2 linked regions of the Homo sapiens genome follow. The protein of the gene in region 2 interacts with the protein of the main gene of each other region in a biochemical or structural test. Each region holds a gene or a part of one and is shown on either strand. Other genes may lie near its edges.

Region 1 (7,948 bases), on a different chromosome or scaffold from region 2:
ACAGACCCGTCCTCACCTAAACAGAGAAACCCTTTGTCGGGTGGGCAGCAGTCGCTCCACTTCCTCTTTGGTACAGTTGAGGTGCTGCAGCAGCTTCTTCTGCCGTATGATATAGAGGAGTTCTGCCAGGAAGAAAGGGTCTTCCTCACTCAGCAGATCCTCTGCCAAGAGATGTTCAAAAACATCTGAGGCTGAGCTGGACTTCTCCAGCTTCTTGTTGGGGACCAATCCTATGCAGAGAAACTTGAGGTTCTCCACATCTTGGACCCCCAGGTTTGAATCAATAATCAGAAGCTTCTCACGAAAGCTCACTTTACAGTTTTTATCTGAACTGGAATACCAATGTTGACCTTGAGATTTCATGGCCAGCCTGAAAGGGACAGAGAGGTGGGGCAGGGAGTTAGAGAGTGAGGACATATGGCCCCCTGACTTCCCAGGCCCTCCCCTCACCACAACCTTCTCCGTTCTGGGCATTAGACTTTCCTAGAAGTGCTGAAAAATAAAAATTACGGCGAGGCTACTTCAAAAAGCAACAGCCCAGAAAACTTTTCCCCAACACTTGCAAGTTACTTTTTAGGAAACTTGGAGGGTGCTTATATTGGAATTCAATTCACCTTGATTTCTCCCAAATCAAAATGTTCCCAGAGAGAGAAAGTTAAGATGGAGGGACACAGCACAATTTTTCTCAAGCCTGGTAGCCTGATTGGAGCCCTTACATTCATTTCCAGCACGTGGCAGAAATAGCACTTGGCTCTATGCTTTAAGTTTTAGACACAAAGCAATCTGGGGGAGGCAGGGTTATCCTTATGATCTATCAACCCAAAGACAGCAAGGTACCGTGAGGTATGTGTGTTACATCTTAACTTCAGACTGCTACCTGTAAGAGGGCAGGCCTTTATCTTACAGAAAGGGAAGGCATAATCCTAGACCTCAAGCCTGAGCAACATGGCGAGACCTGGTCTCTACTAAAAATACAAAAAATTATCAGGGCATGGTGGCACATGCCTGTGGTCCCAACTACTCAGGAGGCCGAGGATGGAAGGATCATTTGAGCCTGGGGAGCACAGGTTGCAGTGAGCCATGATCATGCCACTGCACTTCACCCTGGGTGACAGAGTGAGACCCTGTTTCAAAAAGAAAAATAAATAAATAAAATATCCTAGACCTCAGGAGGAAAGGGTGGTTTTAGACAAGAGTTGCTCAAATCAGTGTAGGAAGTTAAAAATTACATGAGTCGGCTGCTCTGTCTATGGAGTAGCCATTCTTTTGTTTCTTTACTTCTCTAATAAACTTGTTTTCACTAAAAAAAAACAAATTACATGAGTCAATGTTTCCATCTGATCAGTTTATAAACTATGCTATTCTCTATACTAAATTTCATCATAATCAGAGGAGCAATGCAGTGATAAAATTTTCATTGTAATACTATTTATTCTATAAGCACTTGAGGTATGTAGTCAATATGCAGAACTTGGCTATTTTTAGAAACAAGAAAATACTTTATAAAGGAAGGAACAGGTGGGGTGTCATGGCTTACGCCTATAATCCCAGCACTTTGGGAGGCCAAGGCGGGTGGATCACTTGAGGCCAGGAGTTCAAGACCAGACTGGGCAACGTGGTAAAACCCCATCTCTACAAAAAATACAAAAATTAGCCAGGCATGGTGGTGCACGCCTGTGGTCCCAACTACTCAGAGGGCTGAAGCAGAAGGATCATTTGAGCCCCGGGGATGGAGGTTCCAGTGAGCCATGATTGTGCCACTGCACTCCACCCTGGGTGACAGAGCAAGACCCTGCCTCAAAAACAAAACAAAACAACAACAAAAAAACCTCCTAGACCTCAGAAGGAAAGGGTGATTTTAGACAAGAGTTGCTCAAATCAGCGAAGGAAGATAAAAATTACATGAGTCAATGTTTCCATCTGACTAGTCTATAAACTATGGTATTCTACATACTAAATTTCATTATAATCAGAGAAGCACTTCAGGAGACTGAGGCAGGTGGATCACTGTGAGGCCAGGAATTCGGGACAAGCCTGGGCAACACGGTGAAACCCCGTCTCTACAAAAAATACAAAAATTAGCTGGGCTTGGTGGTGTATGCCTGTGGTCCCAGCTTCATAGGAAGCTGAGATGGGAGGATTGCTTGAACCTGGGAGGCGGAAGTTGCAGTAAGCCAAGATTGTGCCACTGCACTCCAGCTTGAGTGCTGGAGGGTGAAAGAGGGAGACTCCGTCTCAAATAAATAAATAGATAAATAAATAAATAAATAAATAAATAAATAAAGGAAGGAAGACACAGCAAAAATCAAAACCTCCATAACAAACAGTGGTTATATCGAGGTGACATAACTATAGATAATACAAATTTCCTTCTGGGCTTCCAATTGAATTTCTCAAATTTTATGCATATGTGAGCATACACATTACTTTTGGTGTTAAAAGAAACAAAAAAATGTCATTTTTAATGTGATAATCCAGGGGATCTTCCCTGCTACTAGCCCTGAGGTCAAATGAGTGGTTTATTGGAGACACCTTTCTATTCTACCGCATCTAGCATTTGCCTTGTGGTTTCTTGACAATTCTGATCTCTAGTTTTAGTGAGTCTACCAAACTTTGTCTCTGTGAGCTAACATATTTCTGCCCCGGTAAAAGGCTATGTTGGAGGCTTCCGGATTTTTTAACTTTTGTTTTCCCAGGCATGACAAAGAAATCTAAGAAAAAATAGTGCCATTGCTGACAAGTTTTTGCAAGTTTCTACAACACGAAGCCATGAAGCAAAGGAAAAGATTCAAGCATGAGACTCTGGAGTAAGAAGGGTTGTTAATTACATACCTTCAGATCAAGCTCCACCAATCTTCTGGAAGTAAACGGTTCTCAGGGAAATTGCCTGAAAACAAAGTTTTAAAGAAAGTAGAATCCTCTGTGTGCTCCAAGGTCCAAAGAAGCTCCCATTTGCTTGGGAAGAGACTTCAAGACTTGCTGGTTGTTTAAGTGAAAACTGAATCTTCAGGACTGGGTAGCCTGATACTAGTTTCCTGCTGATGTCATCACTGCTTATCTGCCTTTTTCCCTCCCCTTTTCCAGGGTTAAGATAACTTTGACAAACAGCGTCTCCTAAAGGCTAATTTACAACTTTCTCACTGTAGAGCTTGGGGTTTCCCCAGGTAAAGCAAAAGCTTCCTAGAAACGAACCCGTGGAAGCCACAAAGTGCTTCAGGCTTTCCTTTGGATCTCCATTTCCTTGGTAAGTCAAAAAGGGAAGCATCTGTTTTCCTAACCAACTCCTTCCCCAAACACACTTCACTTTTCAAATAAAGCCAAAAAGCTCATGAAATAGTTGTCGGCCATGTTAACCCTTTCTTATGTCCACATGCAAATAAACAATGGAGCGATCTCCACTTACCGCAACCTCTGCCTCCTGTGTTCAAGTGATTCTCCTGCCTCAACCTCCCGAGTAGCTGGGATTACAAGCATGCGCCACCACGCCCGGCTAATTTTTTGTATTTTTAGTAGAGACGAGGTTTCACCATGTTGGCCAGGCTGGTCTCGAACTCCTGAGCTTGTGATCCACCCTCCTTGGCCTCCCAAAGTGCTGGGATTACAGGCATGGAGCCACCGTGCCCGGCCCACAAATAAAATTTTTAAAAGATAAAAGAAAAGTGGGGATTCACTTTCAGTCTTTGTGGGAGAAATTAAGAAATAAAAAGAAAAAGAAAGGAAAAAAAAAAGAAAAGTGGGGATGGTGAATTACAAGCCCATTTGGAGGTACCTGCAAGAGACTCAACAAATTTGTGGTAGGCAAAACTGACAGTATGTGTTCTCACAGCACATTCAAACCAGCAGGAAAGTGAGACTTTGAAGACATTATTTCTAATCATAAAAACAATACTGCACACTAATATTGCAACTACCATGTGCCAGGGCATTTACAAATATTTACTCATTTCACCATCCCAACAACACTGTAAGATAAATACTATTACTATGACTGCTGCTTTAACATGTGAAAACTAAGGCACAGAAAGGTTAATTAATTTGCCCAAGGTCACACAGTGAGCGGCTGGAAGAGCCAAGATTTAAACCAGCAAGTTTGGATCAAAGTCACTACACTATAATTAAGCTAACTCAAATGTGCAGCACTCTGGAAAGAGGTACAGAGTCTTAGAAAGATGTTTTATCTATGGGGAAAAAAAGCAAGATTTATGATGCTTTGATTAGCAAATGTATTAAAATGTCCTTTCCATGTCCTAGGCATCATTCAGAGAACTTCTGTGCTTAAGAAAGACAAGTCCTGGGGCCAGGTGCAGTGGCTCCCGCCTGTAATCCCAGCACTTTGGGAGGCTGAGGCAGGCGGATCACGAGACCAGCTTGGCCAAGATGGTGAAACGCTGTCTCTACTACAAATACAAAAAATTAGCTGGGCGTGGTGGCACACACCTGTAATCCTAGCTGCTCGGGAGGTTGAGGCAGGATAATCGCTTGAAGGCAGGAGGTGGAGGTTGCGGTGAGCGGATATCACGCCATCACACTCCAGCCTGGGCTACAGAGCAAGACTCCTTCTCAAAAAAAAAAAGAAAAGAAAAAGACAAGTCCTGGCCAGGCACAGTGGCTCACACCTGTAATCCCAGCACTTTGGGAGGCTGAGGTGGGCAGATTGCTTGAGGTCAGGAGTTCAAGACCAGCCTGGCCATCATGGTGAAACCACATCTCAACTAAAAACATAAAATTCGCCAGGCTTGGTGGCACATGCCTGTAATCCCAGCTACTAGGAGGCTGAGGCTGGAGAATCGCTTGAACCCGGGAGGCAGAGGTTGCAGTGAGCCAAAATCGTGCCATTGCACTCCAGCCTGGGCGACAGAGAAAGACTCTCTCAAAAAAAAAAAAAAAAAAAACCTTCTTGGGAAAGGGGGGCCGGAGCACAGCAGGCTGGGTTACTCACTACCCCAGTTCCAGGGAAGGTGGGGCCCTGACCCTAGAATGCTGCAGCAGAGTGAGGAGGGGGCCCCAACTGACCATAAAGAGTGTAGGGACCACCTTCTTTGCCTGTTCTGTTGGGACCAGGCTAGTCATTATTTGTCCCAGCCTGGGGCTCCCCCTGTGGTTTCCAATTTGCAGTTACTTTAACTTAAAATATAAATATTATTTTCTGGAAAATAACTTAAAAAGGAAGAAAGACAAGCCGTAAGTCTTGGTCTTCTATTTAGTTGTTTTATTATAAATATTAAATTTATTGGGCCATTTAGGGAGGCAACTTATTGAAACTATCACTTTCTCTCACTCTGTTCATAAAGTATATTAACTCTTTCAACTTTGATTCAATAATATTAAATATTTAGCAGGCAATTCAAAGCCCTGAATTGGGCACAATTGGAAAGCAAAGTGACCTGCTTTCCATAGTAACTATGGCGACCGGTACTACCATTTCTAAACTTCTCTGATGAACTCATAACAACTCCCAGCCTTAGCTGGCATTATTATCCACATTCAATAGATGAGGAAACCCAGATTCAGAGAGGCAAGGAATCTTGCCACCATCCCAAAGCTATGAGCAAGAATTCAGGGCTCAAACGTGGGTCTCTCTGACTCCGAACCCCTTGCTCTTGATCCCCGGGCTACCATTGCCCGAATCTCAGTATGACATCGTGTAGCATCTGTAACTGCGGGCAGGGGGTGGTGATGCCACAGTGAGGCTTCACTTTGGTGCCACAGGGGCTTTAAGAAGGGACAATCAGTCAGACATTCCTTGGAGGAGGAAGTATTTGATCTAGGTCTGGAAGGTAAAGGTAGAATAAAGACCCAGGAAGTAAAACTGTAACTTTTATCCTACTGCTCCAGGGAAACATTTGAATCAGGTTACAGAGGGGAGATGGCGTGCAGTGCAGATATTTGTACTCAGCATTTTCTACTTCCTCCTACACACAGTTACTGAGGGCATGTTGATGGTGGTAGAATAAACACGTCTTACAATCTCTTTCCTGATTGGTTGCAGTCTACTGAGTGCACGTGAAGGGCCAATCAAAACCTTCATGGCCTTTTGTAGAGGTGGATGTCAACTACTGCTTTAGTTCCACATTAGTAGGGGGTAGTGGTAGCAGTGGTTGGCTTTCCTTGACATACAATCTGTGGTCCAAGTTCCCCACCCTCTGTCTGGGTAGACTAAAGGGTAATGACTCCTGGCTGGGCACGGTGGCTCACACCTGTCATCTCAGCACTTTGTGAGGCCGAGGTGGGTGAATCACCTGAGGTCGGGAGTTTGAGACCAGCCTGACCAACATGGAGAAACCCCATCTCTACTAAAAATACAAAATTAGCCGGGCATGGTGGCACATGCCTGTAATCCCAGATACTCAGGAGGCTGAGGCAGGAGAATCACTTGAACCCGAGAGGCAGAGGTTGCAGTGAGCCGAGATCATGCCATTGCACTGCAGCCTGCATAACAAGAGCGAAACTCCATCCAAAAAAAAAGAGTAATGACTCCTAAAGGATTGGCATAAGCCATGGGGGAGGAGGAAGGGATATACTGGCTAGAGAAGAGCTCAGAGCACTGAAACCTCCACCCCAACCTATGAGGGTCCTCAGAAGGTCTTGAAGTAGCAAGTCTTCTAGATTTGACACCCCCAACCTCCAAGACCTCCTTACCCCCACTTTGCTCCATACCTTTGTTACGGGATCTTTGGGGTATCAATTTTCTGGCTGGAAACCTCTCTGACTGCAGCACCTTTGCCCGAGTTCTGGCCTGCGTCCAGGAAGAATGAGGTACACAGACAAGTGAAGGGTGAACAAGATGAAGAAGAGCTTTATTTAGTGCTAGAACAGCTCAGAGGAGGCCCACAGTGGGTAGCTCCTCTCTGTAGGCAGGTCATCTGTCCAGTGCTCAGTTCTCAGTGGAGAGGAGGCCCTGGAAAGGGTGGCTTCTCTCTGCTGGCAGGTTGTCTCTGCAGCTCTCAGTGGAGAAGGTAGCTCTTCTCTGCAGCCAGCCATCCCATTGTCTCCAGCTATCAGCAGAGAGTACTCCTCTCTGCAGCTGGTCATCCCACCACCTCTCTGCCCTCTTTGTCCTCTGGCCATCCTCTGCCCTGCTCTGGCTGAGCCCAGGGCTTTTATGGACCTCAGAGAGGAGGAAGTGGCTGCCAATTTGTCCACGGGCACCCAGAAGAGGCACCATGAGTCCCTACTACAATCCACAGGACTGGCAGCCCCACCCCCAGCCTTCAGCCCTCCCTGGCCTGAAGGAGGACCTTACTGGGGACCTGCCCCCTTCTGCCTCCCATTGCCATTCAAGGCCCCAGGACTTGGCCCCAACCCCACTTCAAGATTGGAGAAGGTGCCAGGAGTGAAGAGAGGCCAGGCAGCGGGAGCAGACACCCCCAAGCCTGCGGGATGGGGTGGGAGGGGGTCCTTCCTGGGGCCCCCAGGGTGCAGGCTGCAGAGATGCCCAGGTCCTGCACCTAGGAGGGTGGCTGCAGCCACACCCTGGTGTTGGGAACAGTCCCCCAAATCTGGCCATAAACTGACCCGAAAACTGGCCATAAACAAAATCTCTGCAGCACTGTGACATGTTCTTGATGGCCATGATGGCCACGCTGAAGGCTGTTGTTTTACCGGAATGAGGGCAAGGAACACCTGGCCCACCCAGGGCGGAAAACTGCAAAAAGGCATTCCTAAACCACAAACAATAGCATGAGTGATATGTGCCTTAAGGATATGTTCCTGCTGCAGATAACTAGCCAGAACCCATCCCTTTGTTTCGGCCCATCCCTTTGTTTCCCATAAGGGATACTTTTAATTAATCTATAATCTATAGAAACAATGCTTATCACTGGCTTGATGTCAATAAATATGTGGGTAACTCTCTGTTCGGAGCTGTCAGCTCTAAAGGCTGTCAGCCCCCTGATTTCCCACTCCACACTCTATATTTCTGTATGTGTGTCTAATTCCTCTAGCACCA
Region 2 (6,821 bases):
AGGAATTCACCATGTTGGCCAGACTGGTCTCAAACTCCTGACCTCAGGTGACCTGCCCACCTCGGCTTCCCAAAGTGCTGGGATTACAGGCCTGAGCCACTGCGCCTGGCCGAGGGACTTTTACTTGAACATTTCTGAATTCCTACAATATTTAAATTCAAATAAATGACTTACTTTTGTAAGCAAGAAAAACTAATTTTTATGAAAAGAAAACTGGTAATTATCTTGTTGAAATAAAAGTTATCTAGTCATCCTTATTTTGATAACTTAATGTGAGACAAAATATCCCTATTTCCGTATTTTATATATTTTCATTTTATTAATTTATTTGAGACCAAGTCTTTATCTATCACCCAGGCTGGAGTGTAGTCGTGTGACCATAGCTCACTGCAGGCTTGATCTCCTGAGCTCTAAGAATCCTCCTGCCTCAGCCTCCCAAGTAGCTGGGACCAGAGATGCATGCCACCACACTCACCTAATGTTTTGTAGAGATGAGGTCTGCTATGCTGCTCAGGCAGATCTCAAACTCCTAGGCTCAAGTGATCATCCTGCCTCAGCATCCCAACGTATTGGGATTACAGGTGTGAGCCACCACGCCCAGCCAGTATTTGATTTTTTATTTACTTAGCAAACCAGTATTTTTCACTTTCTTTTTCTACTATGGGAAAAAAATCTACTCTCTAATCTACAAGGTGTGAGGGGGGGAACCTATTTGTAATGTGAAGTAGGCCATTTGCGATTGAAATCTAACAATGAGAAGTTGAGGGGGAATAATCTACTTAAAATAGCATTGCTTAACTTTATACAGAAACAGCAACTTGGTACCAGGACATAAGTTAATATAAGGAACAGGAAGATACCACACAAAGAACCAATTTTAAAATGATCTCTTTTTAATTTCTTAAAAAGCACATTCACAGCACACTCCAAGAATGCCACACAGCAGTGGTTTGCTGCTCTTTGTCAGAATATGTCAGAAAACAAAACAAAAAAAGTTTTAAATGCTAAAGATTTTAAAAATTAGTTCTCTGAAATTTCTGTAAAGCCAGTATCACCAGTCATATAAATCTTTATTTTGGAATCATAAACCTTTCAAAAATGTAATGAGCATCTACCCAAAATTACACCTCTCTGAAATGTAATTAAAAGCTATCCAACAAAAACAAAAATAAATATTTTTCTAGAAAGAACATATTTGGCATTTTAAAATAATGTTAAAAACAGCTTTCTCAAATGTAAATGATGTCTAGATTTTTACTTTCTATTACCAGACAGAAAGTTTGGATCTTTAGTGGTTCCAATCTGACTTCAGTAATAGGAGGCATGATTACATTGAAGTTAATGAACTTTAATCCTAACAAAGCCAATATACTTTTCTAGCACAGTGATTGCTTTTTAAAAGTGGTGTCCAGCACGTACTAAAAACTACTAAGAGTAAGGCCAGATAGCTCAAATTAGTTGATTAATTTGGTATCCAAATTGGGTTTTTTTTTTTTTTTCCTGGAGATGGAGTTTCCCTCTGTCACCTAGGCCGGAGTGCAGTGGCATGATCTCAGCTCACTGCAACCTCTGCCTCCCGGGTTCAAGCGATTCTCCTGTCTCAGCCTCCTGAGAAGCTGAGATTACAGAGAAGTGCCACCACACCCGGCTAATTTTTGTATTTTTAGTAGAGACAGGGTTTCGCCATGTTGCCCAGGCTGGTCTTGAACTCCTGACCTCAAGTGATCCACCCGCCTTGGTCTCCCAAAGTGCTGGGATTACAGGTTTGAGCCATCGTGCCTGGCCCCCAAATTGTTTTATATATACCTTTCATCCTTAGATTTAATATTTCTAATTTGTGATATTTCTCTGAAAATCAATCAAGTACACAGTTCTAGTGAAATATAAACTGAATTTTGCTTCATTAACTAAATTAAAATACGTCAAACATGGTTAAATCTTATATTCTGTCCTTTCAGATAATTTACATTTTATTGATAAATGTAGATTAGCCACACCATGAGTTATATCCTAACCATTTTACCTAAATGTAGAAAAGCTGAAAGTTGACTGGATAGTTAAAAAGCTGTTATATAGTTATCTCTTTCAGAAACCTATGATGCCTTTTCTTAGATATAAGTATGGAAAAAGAATTCTGTTCATTTTCATGATATATCAACAAAAATTACATGACTTATGTCGATTTCTGTCAGCCATTCTGAAACCAAATTTCCATTTGTTCTACCCACTAAAGAGCACACATTTTCCTTTAGAATCACGGCCACAGTCTGGAAACATAATTGAGAAAGGCTAACTCTGGGCCAATAAAATATTCAAGGAAAGACGCAACACAAAACAGGGAGGTGAATAAAGCAAGTATGTTGTAAAATCCTCCCTTGTAAACACATCTGTCCTTTCCTCCCATATTTGGAAGTGTTACCCAAGTTTTAAAAATTATCATCAAGACATTTTACACCACAAGTCACATAAAATTAGGTCTACTTCAGCCAGATAACCTATAGCTGTTAAAGAATTATATTATCCTGTTCATAAGATGAGAGGTAGTGACATTTTATTCTCTCAATGCTGAGCTAAAAATTCCACACATCTGGCACATGGGTTACAAGGGGGAAAAGCACAGAAGCACCATTGCCCACTCCTCAGGTTTTGGTATTTCAAGTCACCCATAACTTCATTTGCTATTGGCAGCTGACAATCACTGCTGTGTTAACACTGAAGCAGTGGGTATTAGTGCTATTCATCATATAGTAGTGGTGGGTCTCCATCATCTTTCAAAAATGAAGCAGCTTTCCTTCCATTCTTCTGAACGTGATCTTCATTCATTTTCTCCAAAGCTTCTATCTACAAAAATAATACATTGAATCCATTTGTCAAAATCCTACTTTTCACAGAAACCATATTTTAGATTGTGCTAGTAATTTTTTTCTTTTTTTGAGATGGAGTCTCACTCTGTCGTCCAGGCTGGAGTGCAGTGGTGCAATCTCGGCTCACTGCAACCTCTGCCTCCTGGGTTCAAGCAATTCTCCTGCCTCAGCCTCCCTAGTAGCTGGGACACATGTGCCACCACGCCAGCTAATTTTTGTATTTTTAGTAAAGACGGGTTTCACTATGTTGCCCAGGCTGGTCTCGAACTCCTGACCTCAGGTGTTCCACCCGCCTTGGCCTCTCAGAGTGCTAGGATTACAGGCGTGAGCCACCGTGTCCAGCCAGTTTTTTTATTTTTTATTTTTTAATGGAGTTTATGTTGCTCAGGCTGGTCTCAAACTCCTGGGCTCAAGAGATCCTCCCTCCTTGGCCTCCCAAAGTGTTGGGATAACAGATATAACAGGAGTGAGCTGCCATGCCTGGCTGAGCCAGTAATTTTTACTCGCTTAAAAACTAGGTTATTCCTAATGATTCTGCCTTTGAGTTGAAATTACTATGTGTGTGTGTGTGTGTGTGTGTGTGTGTGTGTGTGCGTGCATCCAAGTATACACAAATAGTCATACATACATGTATTTTTTTTAACTTGATTGCAAGGGTCAATATTTACTATCTTTATCCAGCTAGCAATTGGAATCATCTATGTTTTGAAATGTATTCTATAAAACATTCCAGAAACAGGAAAAAGAAAACTCTACCATTCATCAAACAACAGTATCACTTACTTACTGAGCAACTGTATTGTGCTGGAAGAATGAATTTACCATCTTTCTGTTATTTCTCTCTAGCCTTAGGCTAGGCCCAGCTTACCCAAACTCAAGTCATCCTGGGGATTTCTGGAACAGACTCAGTAATCACTCTCTGCTTTGGTATAATGTTGGGAATAATTAACTGCTATTTCACCTTTTAGATTTTGTTCAATTTTAAGAGACTTTCTCTGGAGGAAGCTTTTTCATGGTTCTCTAGATCTGATATTATAATAACCGGGTATTTCCAAAGATAGGCACTTCTAACTTTCTATGTTTAGTAAAGGGCAGGGACCACATGTTACTATTTTTTGTATCACTCAGAGTGTTCAACTTCCTCATTCATTAAATAGGGGAAATAGGAGTCTACTGGAAATGTACAGTTTGCCCATCTTAACCAAATGGTGCCCTCCGTGAAGAAATGTTTTGCTGTGTGTGTATTCTGAATTTTAAGTATAGAAAAAAACAGGCCGGGCACAGTGGCTCATGCCTGTAATCTCAGCACTTTGGGAGGCCAAGGTGGGTGGATCCCTTGAGGCCAGGAGTTCAAGACCGGCCTGGCCAACATGGCGAAACCCTGTCTCTACCAAAAATACAAAAATTAGCCAAGCATGGTGGCACACACCTGTAATCCCAGCTACTCAGGAGGCTGAGGCAGGAGAATCGCTTGAACCCAAGAGGCAGAGGTTGCAGTGAGCCAAGATCACGCCACTGCATTCCAGCCTGAGTGACAAACCAAGACTCCATCTCAAAAAAAAAAAGAAAAAAAGAAAAAACCAAAAACATCTTAAGAAAAGAAAAATCTCAAATTAATTTTGTTTTGGGGGAAAGGGAGGATAAAACTAGCTCTGGGTTTCAGTTATCTCCTCTATGCAGTTCTGCATGACCAGCAAGGTGAAAAACAGCTGTTTATCACATACCTCAGCTAAAAAATCAGCTTCATTATCTGCTGTGATGTTTAAGCCTGAAACAGCATTGAAGAGTTCTCGTTCACTAAGGGCTTCCTTGACTCCTCCTTTCTGGAAAAACTAGTAAGGAAATACAAGAAAGTCAGTAAGAAGTATTAGCAATGTTCTCTTATAAACTAAAAACAGGGAGCAGCACATTTATAAAAAGACTTGGATGCATGCACGTGTGCACACGCACACACACACACACACAGTAATTTCAACTCAAAGGCAGAATCATTAGGAATAACCTAGTTTTTAAGAGAGTAAAAATTACTGGCTCAGCCAGGCATGGCGGCTCACTCCTGTTATCCTTGTTATCCCAACACTTTGGGAGGCCAAGGAGGGAGGATCTCTTGAGCCACTACATTCCTTGCCTCATTTCTCAACCATCGATTTTCCTGCTTCCAAGCTGGACTATACTCAGGTTCTAGTTGCTTTTCATCCTCTCACACATCCATCCTGCCTTCTGGATTTAGCTCATACCACTGCACCTTCTATAGCTATAAAAATGAGTGCTATAAATAAAACCACTTGGCATTGCTTTGAATATGTAAAGGAAATACTTTCACTAAACCCCAGAAATTAAAAATTTCAAGCAGGCTCAGAGGTTATTTCCAATATGAAGTTACTCTATCCTTTAGAAAGATCATTGCTATCTGAATCTACTGCCAACAATTCATTTCCCTTAGAAATGCCAAACAAGTGTGACCCAACCCTGTGCTTACTAAATTTTACCATATATATATATATATATATATATATATATATATATATATATATATATATATGTTTTGTTTTTTTAAGAGACAGGGCCTAGCACTGTCATCCAGGCTGGAGTGCAGTGGCACAATCACAGCTCGCTATAATCTTGAACTTCTGGACTCAAACAATCCTCCTGCCTCAGCCTCCCTAGTAAAACAGCCTCCCAGTTAAAGCAGCTAGGACTACAGACATGTTCCACCACACCCAGCTACTTTTTAAATTTTTTTGTAGAGATAGGAGTCTCACTATGTTGCCCAGGCTGGTCTCAAACTCCTGGGCTCAAGCAATCCTCCCTCCCTGGCTTCCCAAAGTGTGAGATTGTAAGCGTGAATCACCATGCCCAGCCACCTAATCTTCTTACCATGCTTCACAGTGACAGTGATCAGACACTGTCCCACAATAGAGACTGTCCCTCTTTTAATGGTAATAATGGCAGCAAGCATACAGGCACACCAGCTTCTGTTTAAGCACTATGCACACATTAAATGTCTACTCGACTGCTTATATACAAGGAGCCAAAACACTCACTTATTCCCTTTAACATTTTTTTTTTTTTTTTTGGAGAAGGAGTCTTGCTCTGTCACCCAGGCTGGAGTGCAATGGCGCAACCTTGGCTCACTGCAACCTCCGATTCCCAGGCTCAAGTGATTCTCCTTCCTCAGCCTCCCAACTAGCTGGGATTACAGGCACACGCTACCGCACCCAACTAATTTTTTTGTATTTTTCGTACAGACAGCGTTTCACCATGTTGGCCGGGCTGGTCTTGAACTCCTGACCTCAGGTGATCCACCCACCTTGGCCTCCCAAAGTGCTGGGATTACAGGCATGAACCACTGCACCTGGCATATTTTTTTTTTTTTTTTTTTGAGACGGAGCCTCACTCTGTTGCCCAGGCTGGGTGGAGTGCAGTAGCACGTTCTTGGCTCACTGCAGCCTCTGCCTCCCAGGTTCAAGTGAGTCTCCTGCCTCAGCCTCCCAAGTAGCTGGGATTACAGGCGCCTGCCACCATGCCCGGCTAATTTTGCATTTTTAGTAGAGATGGGGTTTCACCATGTTGGCCAGGCTGGTCTTGAACCTCTGACATCAAATGATCCACCCACCTCACCCTCCCAAAGTGCTGGGATTACAGGCGTGAGCCACCATACCTGGCACCCCTTGAACATTTTACCCAACTGTAAGACATGGAATCAAATTCTTGCAAAATGAAATATGACAAATTGATCTTTATATCCTTGTCCTGAAAGCAGCCCGTATCCCTTCCTTCAATTTCTAAGAATATGGTCCTCTTACTTATCTTAGGAGTGAGAAAAATACCTGCAGCTGTTACATCCAACAAAAAAAGGCATATTGGTTTACACGTCTACCTGCGAGACATTCCTGCAGTCCCGGAACAAGAACTCCAGGCCGTGAGGGTGGGTAGGTTCTACTGACTGACTGACAT

Evidence for each region.
Region 1: the proteins of RIOK3 (region 2) and CASP10 form a complex in vitro, tested with the Homo sapiens proteins (one study listed by IntAct).

Annotation. Positions count from the first base shown.
Region 1 is NC_000002.12:201,178,193-201,186,140, reverse strand, and holds the start of CASP10 (caspase-10 isoform 1 preproprotein), read right to left. Parts: upstream 3,001-7,948; 5' UTR 2,833-3,000; intron 371-2,832; 5' UTR 364-370; coding exon 17-363; intron 1-16. UniProt on the Homo sapiens protein: Involved in the activation cascade of caspases responsible for apoptosis execution. Recruited to both Fas- and TNFR-1 receptors in a FADD dependent manner. May participate in the granzyme B apoptotic pathways.
Region 2 is NC_000018.10:23,477,192-23,484,012, reverse strand, and holds the end of RIOK3 (serine/threonine-protein kinase RIO3), read right to left. Parts: coding exon 6,745-6,821; intron 4,697-6,744; coding exon 4,589-4,696; intron 2,842-4,588; coding exon 2,734-2,841; 3' UTR 873-2,733; downstream 1-872.